Linked DNA regions of Homo sapiens. The protein of the gene in region 2 interacts with the protein of the main gene of each other region in a pairwise test. Each region holds a gene or a part of one and is shown on either strand. Other genes may lie near its edges. The genes, in order: TLCD4, SFXN1 and STOM.

Region 1 (3,734 bases), on a different chromosome or scaffold from region 2:
ATACATGATGATGCAGCTGACAGACTTTTGTGCAGCCAGATGGCAACTGGCAAGGCCACTACCCTTGGCTCCAAGCTCCAGCCCCAACAGCATCAATGCAGGATAAGTTTCCTGCTCCAATCAGCTGGGAATGACTTCCAGATCTACTGGCTTTAACAAACTCCATATCCTTAAAACAATTCGAATGGATCATGATATGAAGATTTATTATCTTGGGAGGCTTCAGTTTTTAAAGTACGTTGACATGCACTATTGCACTTGATTCTTGTAACAAATTTGTAAGAAAACAAGGGTAGCTATTATTAGTCCCTCTTTATCATTATTATGAAAACATTTCTAAATAGAAAAATTGAGGACCATAAATGTATACGGAAAATTTGTTTTTAAAAGAAATACCCAAGTGAAAGCACAATGTTCTCAAGATCCAGGTCAAGTTTTCTTGTATAGAAGGAATAAGTTTAACATAAAAACCATAAGTTTCTATGAATATATCTTGTTAATAAATTTAATGATGTGACTAATTCCCAAGCTCTATGTTACTTAGAGAACTATACTTAGGATACTGTGTATTCATCCATACAATAAAGTTTTTTTACCCAACAATTTCAGATTTCTCACATCTTTATTGAGAAGTTCACAAGTAATGAAACTTCATTAGGATAAAAAATGAGAGGTACAGCAAAGTTTTCTCTCTAAAAATTACTGGTGTGCAATAAATTTTTCTCTACAATATGATCCCAAATCTTTAAAAGTAAAATATATCAACTAATATTAGGTTTGGTATCAGAAAATTTCATTGTAACTTTAGAAACCAATATACTTGACCTAATAGTGTGTTACAAAATAGATGTATCATGCTAAATCAAGCCATATTTTAAATAAGCAAAGATTCTCACCAATTTAAAGGCATTGACCAAGTATCATTTATAATACCTAAGAATCATTTTGAAATGTGAATAATTAATCCAATTTATCTGGTTTACAAGTCTATAATTTTCATGCCAAGCACACCTTGAGCACAGGATAAAAATGTAAATTCCTTGGCCGGGCATGGTGGCTCACACCTGTAATCCCAGCACTTTGGGAGGCCAAGGTGGGCGGGTCACCTGAGGTCAGGAGTTTGAGACCAGCCTGGTCAACATGGTGAAATTCCATCTCTACCAAAAATACAAAAATTAGCTGGGTATGGTGGTACACACCTGTAATCCCAGCTACTCGGGAGGCTGAGGCACAAGAATCACTTGAACCTGGGAGGCAAAGGTTTCAGTGAGTGGAGATTGCACCACTGTACTCCAGCCTGGGCAACAGAGCGACACTCTGTCTCAAAAAAAAAAAAAAATTAAATTCCTTGATATAAAATAAAATACTCCATTTAAATGGTCATACAGCCCACTCTCTATTGCTATTCAAAAATTATATAAAATTTAAAAATATATAATCTCTCTTACAAACTTGTTTTACTGTTTGGTAACCATAGTCAGAAAGCTCCCTTTTGAAAAACCTAACTTTTTATTTCTGACACTCAGGCCTCAGATTCACTTCTCTTTTGAGATGTTATGTGGTAAATGGAAAGCATTCTAAGCCCTCAGCTGATGGAAATGGTGTATGATTCAGTACAGAAAAGTTAAATATTACTTGGTCCAATCAAATATCTCCCTCTGTAATGAGGAGGAAAAACAAATACCCTGCCCTCACTCATACACTATTCTGTATTAAAAGTCTATACTATAGTTTCAGAAACTTCTGTTAATAAAAATTTTATATTTTATTATTTAAAATCAGATTCCTAGCAAAGGAAAATTTAGATTCCTTAGTATCTAAAAAGAAATTCCAAGATATTACCCAAGATAAAATATTTCAATTTTTTTTCAAAGAGGGTGGAAAAGAAATGTTTGTGCATATAAAGGGATAGCACTCTAAGGAAATGATTAATGACTATTTTAGAATAGCAATTTTAAGTTACTAATCACAAGTAGTGTAAATATTGCCAACAGAAATTATATAACTCAGCTAAATTTTAGAGAAACATTTAAAAATTAGTAGTATTTCAACACAATAAGACTTTCAATGTGATAGGTAAGAAAGTGAATATAAGTAATTAAGAAAATTTTTTTACATTATAAGATGTAGCACCTGTAAGTATACACGTTTTCAGAAAAAGTAACAATTCAGTACAACAATTTCTCACTTTTAACTAAACTGTTGTCTCTCAAATGGGCATTTCCAGTGATTTTTTCTCCTCCATTTCTTTTTATACTAGATGGCTCAGACCACTCTCAACTCATGTTTAGAGACTCTTTCCTGATCACTAGAAAGAATTATGTGTGTTTACCTGTATGTTTCAAACTGGAAGCTGAATTTTAAGACATTTATACATATTTTACTCAAAATACAGCCTCCTTGTCCTACTTTGCACTCTCCACCTTACAGCTTAAGTCCTTTGTAAAAAAAGCTGGAGTGAGAAGCAGGAGCAAACTTGAGAAAAAGAGAAAACACCACTGAATACCTAAATGAATTTTATATAATCCCAGACTCCTTTTTCAAATAGAAATTCAGTTTCCCAAATGGTATTTCCTGTGTCATAGAATGGCAGTGATAAGACTAGATAATGCAAAATATTCTTCAATTTCATTTCATTTTCATCTTGGCTTCCATCTCTCTGTACCCTTTCCTATTTCTCTGACTTGCAGCTACCTAACATTCAAATGCCTTTACCTATCCTAACCACAGGAAAGAGGAAATGAAAATAGTTCAACATTTAATCAGAGAACGTATGTACCCCCTTCTCTTTCCTACCATTCCATCTATCTTCATATGTTAGAAAAGATTTTTTAAAGTAATGGTATCTCTAGTATAATGCATTTGAACAATATTTTTGTGCTAGTCTTAAGACAAAATAATCATACTGCTTATTTTTTGAAAATATGTGGAGAAATAATTCTTGCTTTTTGGGTGAAAAGAACTTTGACATGTATGAACCCGATACATCACTGTAAAGTACAAAAAAAAACAACTAGAGTCTTATTAAATTCACAGTCTGAATCATAAAAGTAGATGCCTGCAAAACAATTTGGTTCAAAGGGAATTTCAAATCAAATATGACCATTCTCAAATAAATACTCAGACACTGACAGAATTTCTTGAATTTTAAAAGGAAATTTCAATGAAAGATAATTATAGCAAACTTTAGAGACTTGCTGAATCCATTTTATGGTTAGTATTAACTTCAACTAAATAGCAACAACAAAAAATAAGGCCACGGCTGCTCTGACTCACTGAGGTTTACAAATGCACAGTGATGTTTGGGGACATAAAATGCTCTAAAGCACGTGAAGAAGTCATCAGAGCCATTTTGTGTTTGAAATCTTGTGAGATTAATAAGTTGTACACACACAAAAAAATTGCAACCAACTTTTTAAAACTCTGGCAGGGTGCAGTGGCTCATGCCTGTAATCCCAGCACTTTGGGAGGGCAAGGTGGGTGGATCACCTGAGGTCAGGAGTTCAAGACCAGCCTGGCCAACCTAGTGAAACCCTGTCTCTACTAAAAACACAAAAATTAGCTTGGCATGGTGGCGCATGCCTGTAATCCCAGCTACTCAGGAAGCTGAGGCAGGAGAATCACTGGAACCTGGGAGGCAGAGGTTGCAGCGAGCCAAGATTTCACCACTGCACTCCAGCCTGGGCGACAGAACGGGACTCTGTCTCAAAAAAATAAATAAACAAATAAAATAA
Region 2 (3,500 bases):
CAAAGTGCTGAGATTACAGGTGTGAGCCACTGCGCCCAGCAGACACATCTATTTTTAAATACCATGGATAAGTTTAATCCTCCTTTGATAGAAATAAAAGTAAAACAACACTAGTAAACTTTTAAAACAGGGTGTACCTTTTTCAGGAACAATATGATTCAAAGGGTGGACACACTAACTTCAATCTATGCTCATGTGCAAATTTGAGCAACTTTCCAAATGAGAAACAGATATAATACACAGCATTATTAAGTCAACAAACTTAATATGCTGACATGGAAACAGTCACTCGCACATGGCCCTACTGTATATTTATTAACTATATTTACTAACACTAAGTATAACTTCTACCGTTACCCCTGTTTTTCGTTATCCATTCCAAAATGCTTTTGTTGTTCTTTCTTCTCCTTTAATTTTTGCCAGTTCTACAACAATACTTCCAAAGATATAGAATAATGTACTTTAAGCCCCAAAAGAAAATTCTGGAGAAAAAAAAGGAATCTATTTTAGAGAATAAACTTTCTTTGGATAGACTTTGTCCAACCCAAGCACAACTCAATGTAAGCTTGAGATATATCTTTTAAACTTTTTATTATACGGACATAGAAAGACTATTCCAGCATCAGCCCCCTCCCCGCACTCCTCAGTCTGCTTCAATAATCAGTAACTCATCGCTAAGCTTGTTTTCTCAAGACGCCCATCCTCATCCCCAACCCCAGAGTATTTCAAAAGAAATCCAAGATCTCATATAATTTCACCTATACATATTAAAACAAGCATTTGAAAGTTTCAACAAAGCTAATTATTACAAGAGACTCTCCTGTCAAGCACATGTCCCTACTAAGAGTGCATATTCGTCTTACCTTTGCCTCATTAATGGAATATTAATGCAATTAGCAGCAGCTACGGCAGCAAAGGGAACAAAACGTCCTATCAGTGGTGAGACATGCTGCAGAGGAGAAAATTTCAAGAGCTTTATCTTATTTTTCCTGTACTAGTAAATGGAAATAACTTATTTCTTCTTGAAAACTCTGAAAAATGCAGAGTCCCATTTGCATAGAAACTCAGGCCAAGAATGCTTTCAAAACTTTTCCTAGCAGTATTTGTATATTTCCCACATGGGTGTGCTGGGACCATGCAAGCTTCTAAGGCCTTGTAGCTAAGTGTGGTTGCAGGAGTATGGGCTTTGGAGTGGGGAGAGAGAGAGAGAGAGAGAGATGCTCTTGCCTCTCTTCAGAGCTGTGGCCTGAGGCACACTGCCCTCTGCAATGCCTCTGGTGGGCTGTCAGGATGGGTGAACATTTAGCACTTCGTACACAGAGTCAGGCACAGACCACAGTCCTGGTAGGTGTTACTGGTGACAACTCTTCCCAAACTTATTGGAAGATATAACTAAAATATGCAGCTGAAGATAAGCACTATAACAAGAAAGCCATATGACTTGAACTAGTTTAAGAAATAATAGAGGGATTTAGAGCCAGGCAGGTGATAACAAATTAAACAGCTTTATTATGGAAATAAAAATCTGAGTACCTTGGTCAATGCATTGAGTCCTAGAGCTGTTGCTACGGCACCAGTTGTTGCAGAAACGTAAGCTGTTCCCAACTCACTGAAAAGAAAAAAGGATATCGTGTGGACGACGAGGGCATGTCAGGAAACTCTGGTGCAACATTATTTGAAGAAATAAAAGGGAAATATAAAAGAGCATGATTCAGAATGAAGAGTCTACAAAACAACATTCACTATCACTCCACAAGTAGGGGAATCTAGAGAAAAAGCAAGCAGATCCATAAACAATGGGATTCTTCACACGTATCTTGACTATAACTCCAAAAAAGTAGACATGTATTCTTTGAAGTGAGTTGGTTAAAATAAATAAATAAACATACAGACTTTGTATTCGTGAGAAGGAGGGGAGCTGTGTGTAGGAAGCTATGAATACAGGGGAATGCATATTGGGCTAAATGTTTGGGGCATATTTGCTTAAAAATATTTCTCAAAATATTAATATACACACTGAAAGCAAAAATGAAGTGCTGCCATTTAAAAAATGATATCTTAACTGTATAAAAATACTAAGTCTTATCATCCAAAAACTATAAAGCCCAAGCAATTCTCTCTTCTTTTAAAAGAAATTTTAATTGCAATAAACACCACTTGGCTGCAGATTTCAAGATCCTTTGTTCCATATAACAATAGTAGAAGAATATGTGTTGTCAAAAGCAATTTTAAGTGATAAAAAAGAGAAGCACTTTTCTTTCAAGTGTAATACAATTATGCTAACTAACGTTTTTGGTTAACTAATCTTGTGAGCCTATTTTTTTTTTAACAGGTGACAAAAAATTAAAACTCATTGCTTTCTTTTGGACTCCACAGATGAGCTATTTTAAAAACATATCAGATATAAAGTTCACACCGCCATGGTCTCCCCTTGATTTCTGCAGAGACCACACTTTGTCTCCTCTACTCTTAACGTTGGTGTCTGTCAACTCAGGCAGGGTAGATGGCGGAACAGCCTGTCACTTATCAGAGGCCAGGCCGGTGCTGCCTGCCATGTGTTCTACAGGGCCATGAGCTCCAGGGTGAGAAGGAGGTAACATCCTACCAGTACCTCCAAAGGCACGAGTAATGTCTGAGAAGGCAGGCTGGAAGAAGACTGTTTTCTTGATAGGGAGAGAGAAAATGAAACACTTTACTTTAAAAAAGAAAAAAGCTACAAAAAAGGATGCTACATAATATTCTGAACAATATAAAAATATGCACACATAGGCTTTTTTAAACAGGAGAGTATCACCACTTAATAAAATGAAGGTTGAAGAACTGCAGAGAGTGGTCAATTCTCGTAGCCTTACTTGACAGTGAGGGGTGCGTCTCCACTTCTGTTGGTGTAATTGACGACGGCATTGAAGGACTGGTTAATCCACTGCCAGAACAGCACAGCCGGCGTAGTCCTAAAACAGAGGCATCCGTCACATACCCACCATCACTGGGCCCAGCCGCGGCATGGAACAGAAAACGTGAACACCAGTAACCAGAGAGGAGACGTACTGGGGAAGGGAGAAAGCCATAAGGCCACACAGGCTTAGGATCTGTGTGCTGGGCAAGCTTTTATCCTCTGGGATCATCAGTTTCCTCATTCCGTAGATATAGATAACACCAAGCTCAGAGGGTTACTATGAGGATGAAGTAAGATAAAATTTGTAGAGAGCCTGGTACAGAATAGACATTCAATAAATGCCAGATCCCTTCTCTTGGGGAAAAAAGATACAATTTGTAGGCTAAGCGGTCCTGGGCCCTCCTAACAGCACTTGCAATGCTATATGTCTATGTCTACACATACACCTTTAATGTGCCTATATCTACACTTATACCTATACCTATATCTATATGAATGGAGTCAAAGGAGAATTTGCCTGCAGACTCTTTATTTTCCTTCTCCACTTCATTCTCTTTTGGGGCTAAGATTTAGAAAAAAAATTCAACCTCCTTTTGAACAACTA
Region 3 (3,734 bases), on a different chromosome or scaffold from region 2:
CATTGTAAAGCACTTTCACATATGATACCTCAGTTATTCAAAGAAAACCTTACCTCCTGAGGAGGAATATCAAATGAAATAGTTCTCATGTCCACTTTGATGAAGCTGTCAGTGCATGGCAGAATAAAAAACAAACCTGCAACAAAGATACACACATTATACAGACACCAGCAACCTAATCAGTTCACTTCTCCATTCAGTTTTAAGAAAATCAACCTAGTGAACTGAAAAGTCACCAGTTCATCTTCGTGAATGAGCCAGAAGCCAGGAATGATAACTTTGATTCCTCTTGCTTACTTCCCACATTTGACTGTCTCCACTAAGGTCTGTGGAGTTCATTTCCTTAATCTACTGTTGCTATCACTCTTCTCCCCACCGCCCCACTGGGACCAATGCAATCGTTTCCCAGGCCATCTTTCTATTTTTTGTAGTTTCTCTCCTATAATCTATTTCCTAAGCTGCAAGCCGAGCAATCCCCCCTAAAATACAAACCCTCCCCCACGCATGGTCCTGCATAACCCGCCTTTGTTCCCCTCTTCAGCCACTTCCTCTCTCTTCACACCCTGCACTCTTGCTGGACTGATCTACTTGCAGTTTCTTGAATCTGCAATACTCTCCTCTTTGTTGCTTTGTGTATGTTGCTATTTCCGCCGCAAACACCTCCTGTTGGTTAACACCTTTTCAGACCTCAAGACTCAGTCAAGATGTAACTTCCAGAAAGCCTTGACTCAGCCTACGACTAGTTCAGATCAGTAACACTTCTCTGGTTTTCTCTTTTCTCACAGCTCTCTGTGAGTACTTGATCATAATACTTATCACATAGGATTGTAGCTATCTGTTTCCTTGTTGGTTCCTACCACTAGATAGGAAGATCCTTGAGGGTAGGGACTGTGTTTTAGTCTCCCTTGAATTCCCAGAACCTGGAACACAGTAGGAGCTTAATTGAAGTTTGCCAAATGAATGACTGAAAGTCTTTCTTTGGTAGAGATTCTCATGCTCAAACTTGTATAGCTGTACTGTTCTTGGCCTAGGTGGTAATCTTATCAGCTCAAATGGGAAGGGGAGGGGAAGGGTAGGAAGGAAAGGGTAACAAAAGATTGGCTAGAACCACTGCTATTGTTATACAACTCCTGCTACATGAACTCTTATCTAAGACAGAGTAGAAGAGGCCCTCATAAGGGAAATCACGTCAATAAAAAAATTTTAGACTGGGCACGGTGGCTCACGTCTGTAATCCTAGTGCTTTGGGAAGCTGGGGTGGGATGATTGCTTGAGGTCAGGAGTTCAAGGCTGCAGTGAGACATGAGCATGCCACTGTACTCCAGCCTGGGCGACGGAATGAAACCCTGTCTTTAAAAAAACAACTACCTAAAAATAAAAAAAATAAAAAGAACTTTAGTTTTCAGATAAACAATCTAGAATCCCAGTACTGACCAGGTCCTTTGGCTCCTCCTTGTAAAATGCGACCCAATCTAAAGATGATGGCTCTTTCATACTCTTTTATAATCTAGAATAAAAACATGAATAATAATTTAACATGAAGAGTACAAATATATACATGCATGGCTTCTTAAATATATATTTCTGCTCTAAACAGATTAGATGCCTCATCTTTTTTCTTTAGAACCAGATCATATCTATAAATCACATGTCCAATGTTTACCTTCTCAAAGCTTATTTATTATTTTCTTACTGATTACAAAAGCAATAGATATTCACTGTATAAATTTAGGAAGGACAGAATAGTATACAGAAACAAATCCATAACCTCACTCCTCAGCTGTTAACATTGTTATTCAGTTACTCATGCAGGCCAGGCACGGTGGCTCACGCCTGTAATTTCAGCATTTTGGAAGGCCGAGGTGGGCAGATCACGGAGGTTAGGAGTTCAAGACCAGCCTGGCCAACATGGTGAAACCCTGTTTCTACTAAAAATACAAAAATTATCCGGGTATGGTGGTGGGTGCCTATAATCCAAGCTACAAGGGAGGATGAGACAGGAGAATCACTTGAACCGAGATCGCACCACTGCACTCCAGCCTGGGCCACAAGGTGACTCCGTCTCAAAAAAAAAAAAAAAAAAATAATAATAATAATAATAATCCCAGCTACACGGGAGGCTGAGGCAGAAGAATCGCTTGAACCTGGGAGGCGGAGGTTGCAGTGAGCCGAGATCGCGCCACTGCACTCCAGCCTGGGCGACAGAGCAAGGCTCTGGCTCAAAAAAAAAAAAAAAAATTACTCATGCATTGTTAATTCAGAAACACAAAAAGCTGAAGTCTTCACAGTTTTTCTTCTGATTCCCTTAAGAATAAATTGATCTGAAAATGCTTGGAGCATATTTTATCTTCTTAGAAATATGTAAATAATAGTCATATATCAAAGTATTAACAACTTTGTAGAAAAAATAACGAGCACTGAGGGTATTTATGACGTGCCAGGCATTGTGATAAGTACATTTAGACACATAATTCATTTAATCCTCGCAACACTCCTATGAAGTAGGTACTGTTACTTTCTCCCATTTTACAGGTGAGGAAACAGCAAAGGTCACACAATAAACAGTAAAGCCAGCAGTCAAACCCTATCATCCTAACTCTGAAGAACTTGTTCTCTCAGAACCATCTCACATCCCTGGCCCCAGGAAATTTTTGATGGTGAAACTTACTTTAGCCCACGGGGAAGGGCAATGGCTGAAAAGAAGTTTTAAGGTTCCATTTTAATAGGTGGGTAGAAGAATAAATTTTCCAAAGAAAGATGAAGAAATAAGAATTATAAGAGAGAGAGACAGTCTGTTTCTTTCTCACATACACACAGGCACACACGAAGTAGGTTTATGGAGGTAGGAGTTGACCCCTTCCCAGAAGTGAATGAAATGTTCTTTACCTTTATGCACATCCATATTGAGATTGGGAAAGTTATAACGGTGAATAAGAATGAGAACGCCACCAAAATCCATCCGCAAGGTCCAAGGCCCTTACTGGGGCTGTCTGTTGAAAACAAAAAATATACAACTCTCACAACTGTTACTAGCATAATCACCACCATCTTCATCCTTACCATTCGCTGAATACCTATGTGCTTGGCACTACACCAGCTGTTTTACATGAATTTCCCCATCTAATCCTCATACAGCCCTGAAGTGTAAGTACTACTTTCCCTTATCTATGTGATGTCATAACACAAGTATATTTCCACATTACTCATTACTTTATTCAGCAAACATTTATTAAGCATCTACTATTTATTAGGCCCTCTGCTTTGTACTGAAATGATAACAATGAGTAAGACCCAATCCCAGCTTTCAGGGTTAAAGTTTAGTGGGAAAGTCAGACAAACACATAATTATAATATTAGGTGGTAAGTACAGATATAGAGTATCTGTTCAGAATATTTTGAAGACACAGAATGAGTTAACTCACGCAGTTAGGATGGAGGTGAGAAAGGAATGGGGCGGGGAGGTGATTCAGGTGGCTGTCAGAGGGTTTCCTGAAGGATGTAATAGTAAGAAAATATCGACGAAAAGAAAGTGGAGGCTGGGCGTCGTGGCTCACGCCTGTAATCCCAGCACTTTGGGAGGCCGAGACAGGTGGATCACTTGAGGTCAAGAGTTCAAGACCAGCCTGATCAACATGATAAAACCCCGTCTCTACTAAAAATACAAAAATTAGCTAGGCGTTGTGGTGAGTGCCTGTAATCCCAGCTACTGGGAAGGCTGAGGCAGGAGAATTGCA

What was found.
Region 1: the proteins of SFXN1 (region 2) and TLCD4 interact in binary tests that used the Homo sapiens proteins (3 or more experiments, as listed by UniProt).
Region 3: the proteins of SFXN1 (region 2) and STOM interact in binary tests that used the Homo sapiens proteins (3 or more experiments, as listed by UniProt).

The regions. Positions count from the first base shown.
Region 1 is NC_000001.11:95,144,682-95,148,415, reverse strand, and holds part of TLCD4 (TLC domain-containing protein 4), read right to left. Parts: intron 1-3,734.
Region 2 is NC_000005.10:175,509,560-175,513,059, reverse strand, and holds part of SFXN1 (sideroflexin-1), read right to left. Parts: intron 2,952-3,500; coding exon 2,853-2,951; intron 1,610-2,852; coding exon 1,534-1,609; intron 950-1,533; coding exon 864-949; intron 1-863. UniProt on the Homo sapiens protein: Amino acid transporter importing serine, an essential substrate of the mitochondrial branch of the one-carbon pathway, into mitochondria.
Region 3 is NC_000009.12:121,353,167-121,356,900, forward strand, and holds part of STOM (stomatin), read right to left. Parts: intron 2,991-3,734; coding exon 2,887-2,990; intron 1,508-2,886; coding exon 1,435-1,507; intron 137-1,434; coding exon 54-136; intron 1-53. UniProt on the Homo sapiens protein: Regulates ion channel activity and transmembrane ion transport. Regulates ASIC2 and ASIC3 channel activity.